Regions from separate parts of the Homo sapiens genome. Here regions 1, 3 and 4 are each linked to region 2. Evidence: fine-mapped expression QTL. A gene starts in region 2. Each other region holds a variant in brackets. All regions are shown on one strand. Distances are between the middles of the regions. Region 1 overlaps SENP5 (SUMO specific peptidase 5). Region 2 holds the start of PIGZ (phosphatidylinositol glycan anchor biosynthesis class Z (Gwada blood group)). Region 3 overlaps SENP5 (SUMO specific peptidase 5). Region 4 overlaps SENP5 (SUMO specific peptidase 5).

What was found. PIP is the estimated chance that this variant, and not a neighbour inherited with it, causes the effect.
Region 1: its variant is the best candidate, but not a certain one, in a credible set for the expression of PIGZ in prefrontal cortex (BrainSeq, PIP 0.89).
Region 3: its variant is the best candidate, but not a certain one, in a credible set for the expression of PIGZ in tibial artery (GTEx, PIP 0.56).
Region 4: its variant is the best candidate, but not a certain one, in a credible set for the expression of PIGZ in esophagus mucosa (GTEx, PIP 0.53).

The regions. Positions count from the first base shown.
Region 1 is chr3:196,928,052-196,933,241 of GRCh38, forward strand. SENP5 (SUMO specific peptidase 5) reads left to right here. Exons shown (of 10, transcript NM_152699.5): 9 at 1,582-1,632; 10 at 2,762-5,190. The coding sequence ends at 2,872. Among named protein-coding and RNA genes, the nearest start is that of NCBP2-AS1, 9.2 kb to the right of the region's middle. The variant G/C (reference allele first, on the strand shown) is at 2,236.
Region 2 is chr3:196,965,649-196,970,845 of GRCh38, forward strand. It overlaps PIGZ (phosphatidylinositol glycan anchor biosynthesis class Z (Gwada blood group)), which reads right to left and starts at 3,185. Exons shown (of 3, transcript NM_025163.4): 1 at 3,039-3,185. It overlaps LOC124906255 (collagen alpha-1(I) chain-like), which reads left to right and starts at 3,485. Exons shown (of 3, transcript XM_047449439.1): 1 at 3,485-3,601; 2 at 3,748-4,564; 3 at 4,653-5,197. The coding sequence starts at 3,485. The coding sequence ends at 4,563. RefSeq lists enhancers at 2,762-3,297, 3,298-3,833, 3,834-4,369 and silencers at 2,905-3,354, 3,415-3,624, 3,635-3,694, 3,805-3,864, 3,975-4,294 and 1 more.
Region 3 is chr3:196,906,957-196,911,956 of GRCh38, forward strand. The region is part of intron 6 of SENP5 (SUMO specific peptidase 5); the gene reads left to right. Among named protein-coding and RNA genes, the nearest start is that of NCBP2-AS1, 30 kb to the right of the region's middle. The variant G/C (reference allele first, on the strand shown) is at 1,955.
Region 4 is chr3:196,882,332-196,887,527 of GRCh38, forward strand. It overlaps SENP5 (SUMO specific peptidase 5), which reads left to right. Exons shown (of 10, transcript NM_152699.5): 2 at 2,820-4,363. The coding sequence starts at 2,851. Among named protein-coding and RNA genes, the nearest start is that of SENP5, 17 kb to the left of the region's middle. The variant C/T (reference allele first, on the strand shown) is at 2,572.

The DNA.
Region 1 (5,190 bases), 38 kb before region 2:
GTTGCCCAGTGCTTCCCGGGAGCAAATCACTTCAGTCATTTCCTCCCTGAGGAAGTTGCTAATGATGTGTTTGCTCTTCTGGGGAAAAAAAAAATCTTTTTTGGGTGGCACTTGCCTCTTGCATCATGGCTCTTATTTCCAGATGACCCATATAGACCCAGAGAAATGCTGAAATGACTATTTGGATCCACTGAGGGGGAGAAAGTGCATTGAGCTACTTGGCAGGCATGTGGGGAAGATAGTAGCCCAAGCGCTTCAGTCCCACCACTGTCTGGATGCAGCACCATGCTTGGCCCATGACATTCAAACTGTGGGGCAGAGTGCCCAGGCACAGCCGCTCATTCCTGTCGTAAATACCAGTGTCTTCATTGATGGTGGGCTGTGTTGTTTCCAGTGTTTTTGTGTATTGGATCTCATTTGATCCTTATAACCTGTGAGGTAGGCAGGTCATTTAGGGATAAGCATCGTCTTTATTTTGTAAATGAGAAAACTGAAGCCCAGGTGTGATTTTCCCCAAAGGACATCAAAACTATTGATACAGAGTCAGGTCCTTGAACACAGGTCTGTCTGGATCATTGACAGGATGTTATAGGCAGGATCTTGAAACAAACCTTTAACCCAAACCCAAAGAGACAAGATTTATTAGTTCACCCTTGAACCGAACCAAATGCTAAATTTTAAAATTAAGCTTAAGTTTTGTGTTTTGAATAACCTAGTATACCAGTTCAAACCAGAACTAGTAAATTTCCTGAATTTACCCAACTAAAAAATCTGGGTATTCTAAATTTAGTCAGGATCTTCTGTATTACCGCTTTGAGCAGAATACAGTAACCAGTTCTTTTAAAAACATACTGTTGGCCGGGCACAGTGGCTCACACCTGTAATCCCAGCACTTTGGGAGGCAAAGGTGCGTGGATTGCGTGAGTCTAGGAGTTCAAGACCAGCCTGGGCAACATGGTGAGACCTCATCTCTACAAATAATAAAATTAGCCAGGCGTAGTCCCAGCTACTTGGGATGCTGAGGTGGGAGGATTGCTTGAACTCAGGAGACTGAGATCGTGCCACTGCACTCCAGCCTGGGCGACAGAGTGAGACCCTGTCGCGAAAAACCCAAAACAAAAACCATACTGTTTACCTTCACGATTTCTTTCAAAGAATAGGACAGGGTCGTGTGATGTGAGATCAGAAGTGAAGACTGCTCAGCGGAGTTGTCGCCATCCTAGCATCCAGAGGCTGGGCCTTTGTTCTCCCAGGCACAGTTCCATTTTGACTCCACTGTCAATGAATTGATAGCAGAGCTCAGTATCCAAATGCATGTTTTAAAACAGGTTTTTACATTTGATTTCCCATTTCTCATATTTAGGTAAAACATTGTCCTATAAATTGGGGTTGCCACCTGATAGCTCTTTTTATGTGGCCAGGTGCCTCCATAAAATTAGATGCTTGAGATATCAGATATACCAGCTGTCCTGGAGAGAGAAAAGTTTCCTATCTTTTGCGCATTTTTCCATAAAGGAGTTTTTCTTATCTGAAGAGAAGTAATGGATCTTGTTTTAATGACTATTTTGTTTTTCCCTTCAGTGTATTCCACAACAGAAAAACGACAGTGACTGTGGAGTCTTTGTGCTCCAGGTAAAGAAACACTTGCTTTTCGGAACTTACAATGTGTGAATTGAGTCTGTTGGGTTGAGAGGGGAGAGATGGCAGTTCCTGTATGTGTATATGATGCTAGGTACGAGCAACGGAGTACTTTCCCTCCCCTTTATTGCTGAGGAGCAGTAGTTTCTGCATGTTCAGATGTTATCATTAGGAAGAACCACCTTCCAGGGATCAAGAGTGAAGTGTGGGTGTCATCCATGTCTCACTGGAGGTTATTAGTAAGCCACATTGGAGACTGACTTGAATTTGTCCATATCATAACCATTGGCATTTGCATAAAAAAAAAAAAAAAAAAACATTGGCAAGCAATCTGCAGGTCTTTGACACAGTGATTAGATTTTAAATAAGGTCCACGTTGAGAAACTGCCATCTTGTGCTGTAGATCTCCTTAGAGATCGAAAAGGGCTATGGAAAAAAATTCAGTTATACATATATTTATGTTGGAAATTACAGAATATGATGCATGAATTTAGAGATTTGCAAAGATCTTGGAAGACCGGTTCGTTTGTATACCTCATGCATGTTTGGGGTTTTATAAACAAATTCAAGTTCCCATTAAGGGCCATGATGGGTCTA[G/C]CTGCACTCCAGCAGGTTGCACTTTGGGAGGAATTGAGGCCTTTTCATCAGTTGCTGCTTTTCACAGTATTGGGTCAGGAGGGAGAGGAGATCCCAAGCCATGCACTAGCTTGGTCAGTCACCTATAATTTGGGTAAATGCTTAAAACAGTGTATTTTTACAGTAGTTTAAACAGACATGAAAATGCTGCCTTAGATCGGGGTCCCAAACCCCTGGGCCACGGACAGATACTGTCCACATTAGGTTCTCTTAGGAGTGTGAACCCTGTTGTGAACTGCAGATGCGAGGGATCTAGGTTGCTCACCCCTTATGAGAATCTAACTAATGCCTGATAATTCATCCTGAAACCAACCCCCTCTCCCCCAAGTCTGTGGAAAAATTGCCTTACACGTAACCAGTCCCTGGTGCCAAAAAGGTTGGGGTCTTCTGCCTTAGACACTATTAGGTCTGCATTTAGTAAAACAGAATGGGCTGGTCCACAACTCCAAGTGCCACTGAAGTGTTTCTGGGACCTTTTTTTTTGCAGTACTGCAAGTGCCTCGCCTTAGAGCAGCCTTTCCAGTTTTCACAAGAAGACATGCCCCGAGTGCGGAAGAGGATTTACAAGGAGCTATGTGAGTGCCGGCTCATGGACTGAAACTCAGCAGGGACTCTGGGAAGTCTGACCAAGTTGGAGCAGATGGTTTGTTACTTGAATCTCCAAACACTTAGTTGAATTTTTACAGATATTTCAGATCAGTGGTGTTGGGCCACTATTGTTACCTCAAATTTATTTTTTGCCCTTATTCATTTCTCCAGCTACCATGTACTATTGTTTAATGTTCAGTTTGGTTTCATTTTTAATTTTATGGTTCTGTGCGTCCCCCATATTTAATATTTATTATTCAAACGCATGCATATAGACAGAGCATGCAGTGAAGAGTATTAAAAAAAAAAGCTTAGTAGATTTGGTGCAGCTTTTGAAACTTAGTTAGACGTGAACTGAATACAGGTTTCAAATTTACTCCCAGAACCTAAAAATGCAAGATGTTTTTGATACAACATAACTCTGAGAATAGTAAGTGTTCCCTGGGGCATTAAGGGTAGCTGGGGGTGGTTTTGACAAATCCAGTCCTGTTTTACTTTACCAGCGGCAACTTTCACCAACTTCCCTCTCCAAGTGAGTCTTAGAGAGTGCAGTCCATTCCTTTTGAAGGGTGAGATGGAAGTGGTCGTAAACTGACTGGTGTCTTCTGTTTCTGGAGGCACACTTGTAAGCACAGTGGCTGCTTTGGGAGGAGTAAGGTGTGAGAAAAAGCAACCTTGGAGGCCAGTAACAATGACAGATTTCAATCGTGGTTTTAGGAATTATAATACGTGGCATACATCTCATAAAGGCTTTTGCTGGGATATTGAATTCCCTGAATTTTTCTGTTTTCGACCTGTTAAAAAAATCTTAACATCCATCAAACTAGTGGTCAAACAAATGAGAATGCAGCTGTTCTCAGAGTAATTTTTAAGTTGTCATTTCCCTGTGTTGCCTCCCAATTGGAAGAAGTTAAGGTTTACCAAATGCATTTCTATTTCAAGGGTATCTGAAACGTAAACATTCAAAACTGAAGGCTGACTGACTTGAGATGTTTTGCAGGTGGCTGGAGAGAAGAGGGAAGGTAATAGAGACAACTTAGTCCCATGGGAGCGCAGCAACCGTGTCAGGTTCTTTCTCCTGTCCCATTAGTGACCTCAGTAACATGCAGGGTACGTCTGGCTTCTGCATGGCCAGTGCTGACACTAGCACAGCTGTTCTTCTCCTTCTGTTGAACCTCATCTTCTGAAGAAAGGCCAAGTGGCCCTTGTCCATACACTTAGCTGCATTAGGATGAATATCACGCGTCTCACATCTTTAATCCAGCCTTTCGTGACATGTTGGAAAGATACATGTGAAACCTACCCAGTTACCCTTTCTGAATTGGGAGGAAAACCAACCAATGTATGTATGAGAAACTCAGAAGTCTGAATAGAAAAACAAAGTAAATGGCAGAAGATTCTCGAGTTTATGCCCGCGTAGGTTTGGAGTGTTGAAAAAGCTAAAATGTTTAGTTTCACTTGGCCCTGAGGTATGGTTGAGAAGGCTGACTGCCAGCAGTTGAGGATTGAGTCCGACCATGTTTACATGCAGGGTTCCCAACACCAGTGGTGACACTGGGAAGCAGCCCCAGCACTTTCCTCTCCTGAGTCCTCCAGACCCAAAATCCTTAATGTCAAACCAGGTCAGTGTTTCTTACTGTGTTTCAAGTCGTTAAAAAGACTGAGAGTAGAGGCACTTTATGCTGCTATAGGTGGGGTTCTGTCAGCGTTAGGAAAAAATGACAGTTTAGGGTAAGGAAGATCTCATAATGAGTTTTTCAAACATAATTATGCAAACATGAGATTTTTCAAAACATGCCAGAAATTTGCCTCTGATTTTTTTTTTTTTTTTTTTTTTTTTTTTGTGGGGGTGTGGTATACCAAAGTAGCCAGTCACTGGGCTGTCAGTTCAAAATGTCTTGTACTTCAGAGTGAGGAAGTGTTTCAGTTCCTCAGTGACAGAACCTGGCATGCAGAAGAGACAGAATTGTTCCTGTAAGAAAATCAACGCCGAGAGAGAGCTGCCCAAATCCAGTGACTCTTCCACTTCCAGTCTCATGCTTCATAGGGCACCTTGAGGTGTGCTGCCCAGTGTGGCTTAGACTAAATGTTGAGTTTGGGTTTTTTGTTTTTTTTTTTTTTTGAGTCAGAGTCTCACTGTCCCTCAGGCTGGAGTGCAATGGCGCAATCTTGCCTCACTGCAACCTCCACCTCCCAGGTTCAAGCGATTCTCCTGCCTCAGCCTCCCAAGTAGCTGGGATTACAGGTGTGTGCCACCACGCCCCACCGATTTTTGTACTTTTAGTAGAGACAGGATTTCACCATGTTGGCCAGGCTGGTCTTGAACTC
Region 2 (5,197 bases):
TGACTGGTGTGCATGTACCTGGGATTTCTTAGCCTTAGGGGTGGCTGGCTGTGCAGAATCTTTGGATGGCTGGAGGCCCTGGGTTGGTTGTTTCTGTTTGCAAACAGCCCCCTCCTTTGTTAACCAGTGTGTCATATAACAGCAATCATTTTCTGTGGATGAATAATGAGGGAGATGGTAAGAAGCATGACCTGGAGTAGACTGCACCGCCATCCGCCTCTCCACTTTCCCTCTCTCACTGCATCCTTCCTTCTGACTGCGGCAGAGACAGGCCGAATCACTCCCCTGTGAGAAACCTCTGGATGGGGGGCCATCCCCTCACCACCCTGAGGACCAGGTCCACATTCCTTACTGTGGCTGACAAGGCCCTCCATAGCTTCCAGTGTCCCCTTCCCGCCTCCACTCCTGTGTTCGTGAGTAGAATTCGGTGCTCCAGAAACATCACGCCTTTCTGCAGCCCTCTCCTCTATTCCGTGCTGTTTCTCACCCCAGCTTCTTGGCTCACACGGTTTCACTTACCCAATACGCTAATAACATGGAGGTTAAGACCAGCGGTGGCATCAGGTAACCCGGTTCAAGTCGTTGCTCTCTGTCACTTGTTCATGGTGAAAGCACTCAATCTCTCTGAACCCCAATTTATACCTCAGCTTTAAAACAAGTACCTATCTCAGGGCTGTTGTGAAGATGAAATGAAGAAAATATGCAGACATAAGTGGTTGCTTTCTTTATCCATCTTGCTTAACTGCCCTAACCCCCAAGAAGTCTTCCCTAACCCTCCTTCTGAAGGACCCTGTGCAAAACTCTGCAGGCGCCATGCGCTGACTGTTGTCTGATTATTTCTCTGCCCTGCTTGGCTGAGGTCTCCCAGGCATGGAGTCCCTTTGAGATTCATCTCCAGCCTGGGTGGGCCCACTGGGGCCCATCTGTCAAGGACAGAGCAGGAGGTCCTCCGGAGAAGGTGACAACGTAGTGGGGCATCGACCATAACAAATGCGGGAGCTCCAGGGAACGACCCCCGCCCGCTGGCGTCTCTCCAGTCTGAGACCCCACTGGAGGAGCTGTCCATGTGGCTGCCTCTCGCCTTTTATCCCAGGGGACAGAGCCAACGCCAAGCATGGCAACCACCCACCTTAACCTAATCAGGATGCAGCCTGCTCATTAATTCATTCATTCATTCAGAGGGATCTGTCCGGGTGCGGGTCCAGCACGGGTCCAAATCCTGCATCTCCAGTAGCCTCCTGGGGGTCGGTCGTCGGGAGGGCTCGTGAGCGGAAGGCTTTAGGATGAAGCGACAGGGCCCAGAGTCGTGGAGATTGGACTGGGGGGCAGGGGAGCAGGCATTGACAACCACGCCGACAGGGGCATCCCGCGCGCCTGTGTGGGAGAATGTGTAGGGCAAGCAGCAGGGAGAGACCATCTCAGAGACAGGGGAACAGCCAAGCAGAAACCACTGTGCTGGGCGCGGGGGGAGGCCGGGAAAGACAGCACATCTGCGGGGCGGGAGGAGGGGAGGGAAGGGAGTAGAAACACTGCTCCCGCCAGCCGCGGGTGATGGGGACACGTGTCCAGCTCGCTGAGTCCGAGGGCCTGGGCCCGCTTTGGGTGCCCTGTTTCTCCGGCGCCCAGGTGTGTGCGCAGAACCGTGTCTGCTCCAGGGACAGCCGTGAACGAGCGCCGTCCGGAGTGGCAGGGCCATCAGGTGTGGCTCATTCCAAGAAAGGTCCGTACCTTCACATGTAAACTTCCTGGCAAAGCTGCTGGGTTGCCGCTTATGGGAGAAGGCGGCGGGCCCAAGGTTCGGCCCCTTTGTCTGAATCTGGCATTTGGAGCAGGCTTTAAGACTTCGGGAAAAGCCGGGCCCCTGTGCAACCACCAAAGGCTGCTTCTCCCGCCCTCAGGACTAAGATCTTGTTCCAGTCCTCCAGTCCTCGGGGTCTACTCCAGGGGTACAAGGTGAGAGTGGCTCTCCAGAGTCCATTTGCCTTTTGGTGCCGCACTGCATCCTCACTTTGACCCTGAGCGCTGCAGTAAGCCCTGCAGGGTGCTCCACCTTGAAGCACGGGAAGATCTGATGCTGGCCGCCTTCTTCCTTCGGTTGCCTGAAAGGGCCCGTGTTTATCCTTCGCTTCACAGAGAACGCAACACACAACATTAAACACACATAGAGAGTGAAAGAGAACAAGGCATCTTCATCAAGGAGGGCGCACCATTTAACCACCCGCGACCTTGCAGTGCGCCTCTGCAAAGTGGGGACTCCGCTCTGTAGCAGGAGATGGGGGTGTTGACGATTTTGAAAGTAGTTCTCAGTTTTCCGAGGCAAAGGTGTCTGGGGCTGACGAATGACTTTTGAGAAGAAGGAATGATGAGAAATGTCCTCATTACAGAACTTTCCCGGCCACACTGTGAGTCCCACGCAAAGACCCCATGACCACCAACCGGAGCGCTGGGTGCTCCCTGGCAGGGTCACCTTTGCTTTTTGCGCGCCCCCATGCCACCCCTGGGGCAGGAGGCCATCCTCTTATCCTGGGAGTGCAGGCCTGGCCCGAAGTGCAGCCCCCGAGGCCGGGAGCCGAGATTCTTCTCGGCTTCGTGCTCAGAGCTTTGCAGCGTGGCATGGTTTCCTCCTCTTGCCCTGTTGCTGTTTCATACCAGGGGGAACTGAGACCCAGTCGGGTTATGGGCCTCCCTGAGAACACTGGCCTCTAGCAGAAGCAGATTCAACCCCAGGCCTCAACCTGCGCCCAGACCCGTGCCCTGGAGTGGAGTTTACCCACTGCCGCCCTTCCTGGGCAAATGTCACCGCTGCCTCCGTCCCCCTAGGTCCGGGGCGGGTCAGTGCTTCGAGCCAGCGGACCCCGGCCTAGGGACAGGTGCCTGCGAGAATGCGGGGGGCGGCCCCCAGCTCCCCTGCCCTCCTCCCTAGAGGCTGGGCCTGCTGGTCTCCCGGCTGCGCGCAAGGTGGGAACGCGGCCGACTTGGTCCGCTCGCCCTCCCCGCACCCGCTCCTCTGGAGCCGCTGGGGCTGCGCACCGACTCACCCGCGCGGCCTCCGGGCTGCGCCTTCAGCGCTGGCGGCGTCCTGCCCGGCGAGGGCCAGGGTCCCAGGAGGCCCCGGAGGCGGCGGGACCGCAGGGCGGAGGGGAGGCCGTGGGAGCGGCCGGGCGCGCCTCAGCAGCGCGGAGACTGGGGCCGCCGCCGCCGGCGCAGGGCGGGCCGGGAGGGAGGAGGAGCGCGCGGGCGGGGCCGCCGTGTACGTCCCCGCGCTCCCGCCCGGCCTGGCCCCGCGGTCCCGGAGCGAGCTGGGGCCGCGCTGGGGAGGGTCCTGGGGGCGCCGCCGTCCCTCGGGCCGGGCAACGCCGGGCGGGGACCGGTCTCGCCCCGCCGCGCTCGGGCTCCCTCCCCGGCGGCCCCTCCTCGGCGAACAGCCTTTCGGCGCGGGGGGCTGTTAAACCAGACACCCCAGGCCACACTCCTCTCGTTCGAAATGACCATTTCGGGGTTCTCCGTGGCGGGGAGCTCCGCCGCCGCCGTCCCCCTTCCACGCGCGGGAGGTCGGCGAGGGCAGGGCGGGGACCCGGAGTGCGGCCCCCGGTCCTGCTTCGTGGCCCGAAACGCCTCGCAATGGAGTCACTCATGACAGGGGACTCAGCGCACGGGGCGGCTGCTGAGCCCCGCAGCGATCGGCGGGCGTGAGGGGTTCCCCGGCGTGGTTGCCCGGGAGCCTGTCAGCCCCAGCAGCCCTGACAGGAAAGGGAAGTCGAGAGGAGGCTGAGCGAACGGCCGCCACCCCCGCGGGACGCTGACCCGGGCGGACCCCGAGGGGCCTCTCCCCGCGCCAGAGCGCGGCGTGCGCGGGGAAGCGCGACCCACCGGGGTCGGCGACGGCGCGCGGGGCGGGCGCGGCGGTTCCCTCTCCTCCGCCCGTGCCCGTGGGATCGGCGGGCTTGTCGGGCTGGGAGAGCCTCGTGGAACCCGGGCATCCGGGCAGCAGCGGCCTCCGAGCCACTGTGGAGGCGCCCGGGGTCGGCACGGCGAGGCCGACGGGGACCTGACACGGTCACGCGGCGCCGGGGAGCAGGTTCGAGTGGCCGGGCGTGGCCGTGCTGCCCCTCCGCGTTCCGCAGGCGGCGACGGGCGAGCGGCCCTAGCGGGCTGCAGGGAGGACGCCGCGTGGACGGAGAGCCGGCGCCCGGGGGCCAGATCCCCTCCCGGGACGGGGCGCCAGGTCCCCGCGAGCTGCGGCGCGACGCGCGGGCACCCGTGTCCCACCCGGTGGCCTCGCCGCTGCGGGCTGCGCTGAGAGCGGGGTGGCGCGACGCGGTCCCTCACCGCAGGGGGAAGACGGCACCACCGCGTCCCGGCCGCTGGAGCTTCCCGCCCGCGCCGCCGGCCCGACGCTGCCCCCTGGCGGGAGAGCGCTGCAGGGGCCCCGGCGAGGCCGCAGGACCCGACCTCCCCGCCGGCCTCGCACTCCCGCGCCGCCGCCGAGGGTCGGCAGCCGGATCGCCCTCCGTGCCCCATAGCACCCCTCACACTAAAAACGACGACTTTATTAAGATGTGAGGTATTCTATACATACGATAAATACCAGGAAATTTAAGTACAGTACATGGAAGTATACAGTTCCATGAATTTTTTCCTTTATTTTTTAGATACAGGGTCTCTGTCGCCCAGGCTGGAGTGCGGTGGCACGATCTCGGCTCACCGCAGCCTTGAACTTCTAGGCTCCAGCGATCCTCCTGCCTCAGCCTCCCGAGCAGCTGGGACCACAGGCCCCGCCACCATGCCCGGCTCAGTTCCATGACTTCTGACACGCGAAACCACCAGGCTAGTCTCCCCCCGAGTTCAAGAAGTCCTCTCCTCCCAAAAGTACCCTCCTGCCCCTCTGCAGCTAACCCCTCACCTCCCCTCCGCCCTGGTTCCAGACAACTGCTCCTCTGATTTCTGTCACTGCCCTTTGCCTCTCTCGCAATTGCATGCAAGGAGAACCATTCACCGTGTGGTCTTTTGTGCCTGGCTTTCTTCGCTTGGCACCATGCAGCTGAGCGTCGCCCGTGTGGCGTGTGTGTGTTGTATTTTCCTCTACCTTGGTCTTGAGACCTCCCTGGAGAGCCACTGTAAAGGCCAACTCTGCCCTGACAGGGCTCCTGGGATTTGGGCGTGGGTGTTTGCCGTGGGCCTTTCATGGGGCACCTCT
Region 3 (5,000 bases), 59 kb before region 2:
TGATGTAGGAAGTAAAATTAACAGGATTTGGTGATAAGTTGGTTATGGAGATGAAGGACAAGGAAGTGTGAAAGATGACTTCCAAGTATGTGACTTGTATGACTGGACGGCCTATGGTTGTATTTACATTAGAAAAATGTAGGACAACTAGTAGAGGATTGTTCAAATTTAAAATGTACAGTCATATAATTGGATGCTACTTAAGCAGGAAAAGCTGTGTAGATAATGAACGATGGGCCGGGCACAGTGGCTCACATCAGTAATCCCAGCACTTTGAGGGGCCGAGGCAGGCGGATCACGAGGTCAGGAGATAGAGACCATCCTGGCTAACACGGTGAAACCCCATCTCTATTAAAAATACAAAAAAATTAGCCGGGCGTGGTGACGGATGCCTGTAGTCCCACTTACTCAGGAGACTGAACCCAGGAGGCGGAGCTTGCAGTGAGCCAAGATCGCACCACTGCACTCCAGCCTGGGCGACAGAGAGACTCCGTCTCAAAAAAAAAAAAAAAAGATAATGGAAGATGCTTATATTCCATTTGGGGTGGGAAAAATTACAAGCAGTGTGGGCAAAAAATATACATTCATGGAAAAGTATCTGAATGATAAACATGAGAGTGAAAGAATAAAGTCAAATATGTGAGTTGTTTCATTAAATAATAAACTAAATTATTCCTTCCTCTAGATCAGGGGTGTCCAATCTTTTGGCTTCCCTGAGCCTCACTGGAAGAAGAAGAGTTGTCTTGGGCCACACATAAAATACACCAACACTAACAATAGCTGATGAGCTAAAACAAAAAAAATTGCAAAAAAGATCTCATAAAAGAAAGTCTACAAATTTGTGTTCGGCTGCATTCAGAGCCGTCCTGGGCTGCATGCTGCCCGTGGGCTGTGGACTGGACAAGCTTGCTGTAGATCCTCTGAGATTGGGTTAAGTAAAAAAAAAAAAAACCCAGGTTTATGCTGAATATAAGAAGTATACATAAAATAATATGAAAAAGAAAGGTTGAAAATGAAGTGACATTTAAAGAGGCTGGGCGCTGTGTCTCACATCTGCAGTCTGAACACTTTGGGAGGCCTAAAATTACTGTAGATGGGAGGATTGCTTGAGCCCAAGAGTTTCAAATCAGCCTAGGCAACCAAGCGAGACCCCGTTTCTATAAAAAATTTAAAAAACTTAGCTGGCCATGGTGGCAGCCTGTGGTCCCAGTTATCCAGAAGGCTGCGGTGGGAGGATCACTTGAGCCTGGGAGGTCGAGGCTGCAGTGAACCCTGATCACGCCACTGCACTCCTGCCTGGGTGACAGACTGAGACCTTGTCTCAATTTAAAACAAATAAAAAAGGCAACTACAGGAAAGTTAAACAACCTGTTCCTGAATAACTCCTGGGTAAATAAAGAAATTAAGGCAGAAATCAAGAAGTTCTTTGAAACCAATGAGAACAGAGAGACAATGTACCAGAATCTCTGGGACACAGCTAAAGCAGTGTTAAGAGGGAAGTTTATAGCACTAAATGCCCACATCGAAAAGCTGGAAAGATCTCAGATCAACATCCTGACATCACAATTAAAAGAACTAGAGAAGCGGCTGGGCGTGGTGACTCATGCCTGTAATCCCAGCACTTTGGGAGGCTGAGGCGGGTAGATCACCTGAGGTCAGGAGTTTGAGATGAGCCTGACCAACATGGAGAAACCCCATCTCTACTAAAAATACAAAATTGGCTGGGTGTGGTGGCACATGCCTGTAATCCCAGCTACTTGGGAGGCCGAGGTAGGAGAATCACTTGAACCCGGGAGGTGGAGGTTGTGGTGAGCTGAGATTGCGCCATTGCACTCCAGCCTGGGCAAGAAGAGTGAAACTCTGTCTCAAAACAAACAAACAAAAACAACAACAAGGAAATAGAGAAGCAAGAGCAAACAAATCCAAAAGCTAGCAGAAAACAAGAAATAACTAA[G/C]ATCAGAGCAGAACTGAAGGAGATAGAAACACAAAAAAACCCTTCAAAAAATCAGTGAATCCAGGAGCTGGATTTTTTGAAAAAATTAACAAAAAATACCTCTAGCTAAACTAAAGAAGAAAAGAGAGAAGAATCAAATAGACACAATAAAAAATGATAAAGGGGATATCACCATTGACCCCACAGAAATATACAAATTACTATCAGAGAATACTATAAAGACCTCTACACAAATAAACTAGAAAATCTAGAAGAAACGGATAAATTCCTGGACACATACACCTTCCCAAGACTAAATCAGGAAGAAGTGGAATGTCTGAATAGACCAATAACAAATTCTGAAATTGAGGCAGTAATTAATAGCCTACCAACCACAAAAAGCCCAGGACCAGATGGATTCACAGCCAAATTCTACCAGAGGTACAAAGAGGAGCTGATACCATTCCTTCTGAAACTATTTCATAACAATTGAAAAGGAGGAACTCCTCCCTAGCTCATTTTATGAGGCCGGCATCATCCTGATACCAAAACCTGGCAGAGACACAAAAAAAGAAAATTTCAGGCCAATATCCCTGATGAACATCGGTGCGAAAAATTCTCAATAAAATGCTGGCAAACCAAATCCAGCAGCACATCAAAAAGCTTATCCACCATGATCAAGTTGGCTTCATCCCTGGGATGCAAGGCTGATTCAACATATGCAAATCAGTAAACATAATCCGTCATATAAACAGAACCAGTGACGAAAACCACATGATTATTTCAGTAGATGCAGAAAAGACCTTCGATAAAATTCAGCATCCCTTCATTTAAAAACTCTCAATAAACTAGGTATTCATCAAACATATCTCAATAATAAGAGCTATTTATGACAAACCCATAGCCAATATCAGTGGGCAAAAGCTGGAAACATTCCCTTTGAAAACTGGCACAAGACAAGGATGCCCTCTCCCATCACTTCTATTCAACATAATATTGGAAGTTCTGGCCAGGGCAATCAGGCAAGAGAAAGAAATACAGGGTATTCAGATAGAAAGAGAGGAAGTCAAATTGTCTCTTGCAGATGGCATGATTCTATATTTAGAAAATGCCATCGTCTCAGCCCCAAAACCCCTTACGTTGATAAGAAACTTTAGCAAAGTCTCAGGATACAAAATCAATGTGCAGAAATCACAAGCATTCCTATACGCCAGCAATGGACAAGCAGAGAGCCAAATCATGAATGAACCCCCATTCACAATTGCTACAAAGAGAATAAAATACCTAGGAATACAGTTTATAAGGGATGTGAAGGACCTCTTCAAGGAGAACTACAAACCACTGCTCAAGGAAGTAAGAGAGGACACAAACAAATGGAAAAATATTCCATCCTCGTGGATAGGAAGAACCAGTATCTTGAAAATGGCCATACTGCCCAAAGTAATCTTTTTTTTTTTTTTTTTTTTTTTTTTTTTGAGATGGAGTCTCGCTCCATTGCCCAGGCTGGAATGCAGTGGCATGATCGTGGCTCACTGCAACCTCCACTTCCCGGGTTCAAGCAATTCTCCTGCCTCAGCCTCCCGAGTAGGTGGGACTACAGGCATGCACCACCATGCCCAGCTAATTTTTTGTATTTTTAGTAGACACAGGGTTTCGCCGTGTTAGCCAGGATGGTCTCGATGTCCTGACCTCGTGATCCGCCTGCCTCGGCCTTCCAGAGTGCTGGGATTATAGATGTGAGCCACCACTCCTGGCTGCCCAAAGTAATTAATAGATTTAATGCTATTCCCATCAAACTACCATTGGCATTCTTCACAGAATTAGAAAAAACTACTTTAAAATTCATATGGAAACAAAAAAGAGCCTGTATAGCCAAGACAATCCTAAGCAAAAAGAACAAAGCTGTAGGCATCACATACCTAACTTCAAACTATACTACAAGGCTACAGTAGCCAAAACAACGTGGTATTGGTACCAAAACAGGCATATAGACCAATGGAACAGAACAGAGACCTCAGAAATAACACCACACATACACAACCATCTCATCATTGACAAACCCGACAAAAGCAATGGGGAAAGGATTCCCTATTTAATAAATGATGCTGGGAAAACTGGCTAGCCATATGCAGAAAACTGAAACTGGACCCCTTCCTTACACCTTATACAAAAATTAACTCAAGATGAATTAAAGACTTAATTGTAAAACACAAAATCGTAAAAACCCTAGAAGAAAACCTAGGCAGTACCATTCAGGACATAGGCGTGGGCAAAGACTTCATGACAAAAACACCAAAAGCAATTGCAGCAAAAGCCAACATGGATTCTAATTAAACTAAAGAGTTTCTGCTCAGCAAAAGAAACTATCATCAGAGTGAACAGGCAACCTATAGAATTGGATAAAATTTTTGCAGTCTACCCACCTGACAAAGATCTAATATCCAGAATCTACAAGGAACTTAAGCAGATTTACAAGAAAAATAAACCATCAGAAAGTGGGCAAAGGATATGAACAGACACTTCGCAAAAGAAGACATTTATGTCTGTAGTCTCAGCTACTCGAGAGGCTGAGACAGGAGAATTGCTTGACCTGGGAAGTGGAAGTTGCAGTGAGCCAAGATTGCGCCACTGCACTCCAGCCTGGGCGACAGAGTGAGACTTTGTCTCAAAAAAAAAAAAAAAAGGACATTTATGTAGCCAAAAAACATATGAAAAAACCTCATCAGTTGGGCGCGGTGGCTCACGCCTGTAATCCCAGCACTTTGGGAAGCTGAGGCAGTTGTGGTGGTGGGGGCCTGTAATCCCAGCTACTCGGGAGGCTGAGGCAGGAGAATCGCTTGAACCTGAGAGGCAGAGGTTGCGTGAGCTGAGATTGTGCCATTGCACTCCAGCCTTAGCAACAAGAGCAAGACTCCGTCTCAAAAAAAAACAAAACAAAAACAGCTAATCACTGATCATTAGAGAAATGCAAATCAAAACCACAATGAGATACCATCTCATGCGAGTCAGAAATGACAATTATTAAAAAGTCAAGAAACAATAGAAGCTGGCAAGGCTGTGGAGACAT
Region 4 (5,196 bases), 83 kb before region 2:
GGAACCTTTTTATCTTCCCAAACTGAAATTCTGTACCCATTAAGCAATAACTCCCTTTTCTCCCCCTCCCTGTTGGTTTATAAAAGTTGACTTTATATAGTTTTTGCTTTTATCTGTTTGTTTTGGTCTGTTTTTATCCCTAGACATCTGGTGATTCTTGGTCATCCTTTATTTTTTATTTTATTTTTTTGAGACAGAGTCTTGCTCTGTCGCCCAGGCTAGACTGCAGTGGTGCGATCTCAGTTCACCACAACCTCTGCCTCCCAGGTTCAGGCAATTCCTGTGCCTCAGCCTCCCAAGTAGCTGGGATTACAGGCATGCACCACCATGCCCAGCTAATTTTTGTATTTTTAATAGAGATGGGGTTTTGCCATGTTGGCCAGGCTGGTCTCGAACTCCTGACCTCAAGTGCTCTGCCCACCTTGGCCTCCCGAAGTATTGGGATTACAGGCGTGAGCCACCATGCCCAGCCCGTCTAGTTGTTTTTAATAATGACCACTAAGAAACTGCTTGGGAACTCTTAACACATGGTGGAATGTGTCAACTTTGGGGTACACTGTGGGCCATTTTGTGGGGTAATATCTGTATCTTTATGGATTTTTTTTTTTTTTTTGGTGGACTAGTTATAGTCTCCAGAAAAGAATCTTCAGTCTGCTTGTATGGGTGAGACAGACTGCTAGCATTCTGGGAGATGAGTGGCAAAGTGTGTTCGGAGTCTCATATGCAGTATATAATTCCATCTTCAAATTATGCCTGGAGTCCCTGTGTCTGCAGACTTTCCATTTTACTCTTTTTTGCATTTTACATTTCACTATTTTATCTAAAGGATAAACTTCCAATCTTGGGTGGGGGAGGGTCACTTACCTGCCATGTGGAGTTAAGTAGGGATCTGGAGTCTAACTGCTTCTTAAACTTTAGGCCACCCTATTGAGTCATTGTTCAGACTTATTTTGTTGTGACATCCCCAAATATCACTATCTGTTGGTTTTTTCTCCGTGAATGATCTGTTTTCCCCCAGGGACTAGTCGCCTTCTTGTGGGTATAGAGCTTCTTGCCAGTCTTATGGAAGCTGAGTGGGGAAGGGCCTGGAGGGGAATTCACGGTGTAAACTCATTTATCCTCCTGGTATACCCCTGTGCTCAGCTGTACATGATATACTGGACTATCCTGGGTCATCCTCCTCAGAAAGTGAAACTTTCATCATCTGCCACGGTAGGAGATGGTATCTAGGAGTTTCACTGCTTCTTATTCAGACTTTGAGCCAGCGTTTCCTTTTCAACACCACCCATACTCCTGACTTTCATAGGTATATGTTGCCTCTGCTTCTGAGCCTTTCTGCTTTCTGAGGTCCTATAGCTGCTGCTTTTTTTTTTGGAGACAGAGCTTCACTCTTGTCTCCCAGGCTGGAGTGCAGTGGCGCAATCTTGGCTCACTGCAACCTCCACCTCCCAGGTTCAAGCAATTCTTCTGCCTCAGCCTCCCAAGTAGCTGAGATTACAGGCACTCATCATCATGCCTGGCTAATTATTTTTGTATTTTTAGTAGAGACGGGGTTTCACCATGTTGGCCAGTCTGGTCTCGAACTCCTGACCTCAGGTAATCCATCTGCTTCGGCTTCCCAAAGTGCTGGGATTACAGGCATGGGCCACCACACCTGGCCCTGTGTTCTCATGTGTAAAATGAAGGACGGGGAAGGGAGAGGAGACCAAATACCACTTAAGACTGATTCCATATTGACTTAATTATAATTTGCTCATAGCAAAATAATTAGTTTCATACAGCAGATTTTTAAAAGAGCAGGTACTTTTGTTCTGTATAGTCATGCACCAGTAGATATTTAGTAAATACATGTGAGGTCAGCATCTCAAGAGGGAAGCCACGCTCCTCTGTTACCAGTCAAAGACTCTGGGTAGCCATGCAAGGACAGGACTTTATCAAATGCTCTCACCCAGTGATGGTTCTGGATCTCAAGTGAATATAAGAAAAAAGAACCAACACAAGCATACACACATATACTGCAGGAACACACTCTAGAAGTAGATGGAAATGAATGACAGTCAAATCCAAACAATAACTTCCCCTCAGGATTTAATAAAATCTAATATTAGCGAAGGCTCTTTAGTCTAGAAAGAAAGGCACCAGTCACTGCAGGTAGAGTGGAAGAAAGACTATGAAACAGAAGCCAATATTCTAATTTCAGCTTGACAACAGTTTACTCAGAAGTGCTGTATTACCTTTCTGTGTATAAGTTTTCTCTGGGGAAAAAAATGGAGGACTGAACACATGTTTACCTCAGTTCCCTCTCCAAATCACACTGAGGTTACAGAAATCAGTTTTTTTTTGTTTTTTTTTTTTTTGAGATGGAGTTTCGCTCTTGTCACCCAGGCTGGAGTGCAGTGGCGCGATTTTTGGCTCAGTGCAACCTCCACCTCCCAGGTTCAAGCAATTCTCCTGCCTCAGCCTCACCAGGAGCTGGTGTCAGGTGTGAGGATTACAAGCAATCCTTGCACCTTGGCTTCCCAGAGTGCTGGGATTGCAGGTGTGAGCCACTGCGCCTGGTCGAAAATGATT[C/T]TTAAGTTTATTTTTCTCAGAGGCAGGTGTACAGCAAATGGCTTTTTGTTAGACTACTCATGTCCTCCCTCCTCTCCAGTTTTCATTGTGATGAAAACCTTGGTCAGATAAGATTTCATTGTGTCCAATAGTCTAAATTGAAGTATATGTACTCTTTTTTTTTCTCAATTTTCTGCCTTAGTTACTGTGAATATGTCTTCATGACCTTATTTTTAGATAGAAATATAACTTACTTCTCTTCTTTACAGCTGCATCCAGATCTCATTATGCATCAGAAAAATGAAAAAACAGAGGAAAATTCTATGGAGGAAAGGAATCCACTTAGCCTTTTCTGAGAAATGGAATACTGGGTTTGGAGGCTTTAAGAAGTTTTATTTTCACCAACACTTGTGCATTCTGAAAGCTAAGCTGGGAAGGCCAGTTACTTGGAATAGACAGTTGAGACATTTCCAGGGTAGAAAGAAAGCTCTTCAAATCCAGAAAACGTGGATCAAGGATGAACCCCTTTGTGCTAAGACCAAGTTCAATGTGGCTACTCAAAATGTTAGTACTTTGTCCTCTAAAGTGAAAAGAAAGGACGCTAAACACTTCATTTCCTCCTCAAAGACTCTCCTGAGACTCCAAGCAGAGAAGCTGTTGTCATCAGCAAAGAATTCTGACCATGAATACTGCAGAGAGAAAAATCTCTTGAAGGCAGTTACTGACTTTCCATCAAATAGTGCTTTAGGTCAGGCCAATGGTCACAGACCTAGGACAGACCCACAACCTTCTGACTTTCCCATGAAGTTCAATGGGGAGAGCCAAAGTCCAGGTGAGAGTGGCACGATTGTGGTCACCTTGAACAACCATAAGAGAAAGGGCTTTTGTTACGGCTGCTGCCAAGGGCCGGAGCACCACAGGAATGGGGGACCCTTGATTCCAAAAAAGTTCCAACTTAACCAACATAGAAGGATAAAATTATCTCCTCTTATGATGTATGAGAAATTATCCATGATTAGATTTCGGTACAGGATTCTCAGATCCCAGCACTTCAGAACCAAAAGCAAGGTTTGCAAGCTAAGAAAAGCCCAGCGAAGCTGGGTACAGAAAGTCACTGGGGACCATCAAGAGACCCGTAGGGAGAACGGTGAGGGTGGCAGTTGCAGCCCATTTCCTTCCCCAGAACCTAAAGACCCTTCTTGTCGGCATCAGCCGTACTTTCCAGATATGGACAGCAGTGCTGTGGTGAAGGGGACGAACTCTCATGTGCCTGATTGCCACACTAAAGGAAGCTCTTTCTTGGGCAAGGAGCTTAGTTTAGACGAAGCATTCCCTGACCAACAGAATGGCAGTGCCACAAACGCCTGGGACCAGTCATCCTGTTCTTCTCCTAAGTGGGAGTGTACAGAGCTGATTCATGACATCCCCTTACCAGAACATCGTTCTAATACCATGTTCATTTCAGAAACTGAAAGAGAAATTATGACTCTGGGTCAGGAAAATCAGACAAGTTCTGTCAGTGATGACAGAGTAAAACTGTCAGTGTCTGGAGCAGATACATCTGTGAGTAGCGTAGATGGGCCTGTGTCCCAAAAGGCTGTTCAAAATGAGAACTCATACCAGATGGAGGAGGATGGATCTCTCAAGCAGAGCATTCTTAGTTCTGAGTTGCTGGACCACCCTTACTGTAAAAGTCCACTGGAGGCTCCCTTGGTGTGCAGTGGACTCAAACTAGAAAATCAAGTAGGAGGTGGAAAGAACAGTCAGAAAGCCTCTCCAGTGGATGATGAACAGCTGTCAGTCTGTCTTTCTGGTATGCACTTTTCCTTTATTCTCCCTCAAACTCCAAGCTCACATTTGCTGTGCATTATCCTTGCTAATAAGAGTCCTATTTTTTTCTCCCACTCATGAATATTTCTTTAAACCAGTTAGTCTGCTTGAAGCCTTTTATATTGCTGCATTATGTAGATGTTCCATCATTTAATCCTTGTAGACACTTGCATTGATTCCATTTTTTTCATAAGCTAATAGTGCGATGAAATTATGTCTTTACATTTATACATTTGTTTCTGTAAGCTAAATTCTCATTATTAGAATTGATGGTGAAGGAATATTCACACTTAAAATTTTAAGATAATTAAGTTACCCTCCAAAAAGTTGAACCAGTTTACATTTGTTAAGCTTTGGCAGTCTTACAGATCACAGAGTTTTGTTTTAATTTGCATTTTTGAGTTTTAAGTTTGAACATCTGTTTCTGTGTTTATTGGCCACTTTTTTGTATGTGCATGGTTTTCCTTTGCCTATTTTTCTTTTTTTTGAGATGGAGTCTTACTCTGTCGCCAGGCTGGAGTGCAATGGTGAGATCTTGGCTCACCACAACCTCCACCTCCTGGGTTCAAGTGATTCTCCTGTCTCAACCCCCCGAGTAGTTGGGATTACAGGCACCCGCCACCATGCCTGGCTAATTTTTGTATTTTTAGTAGAGATGGGGTTTCACCATGTTGGCCAGGCTGGTCTCGACCTCCTGACCTCACGTGATCCACCCACCTTGGCCTCCCAAAATGCTGGGATTACAGGCGTGAGACACCGTGCCCTGCCCCTTTGCCTATTTTTCAACTGGATTGTTTCTGTTTTTTTTTTTTTAAT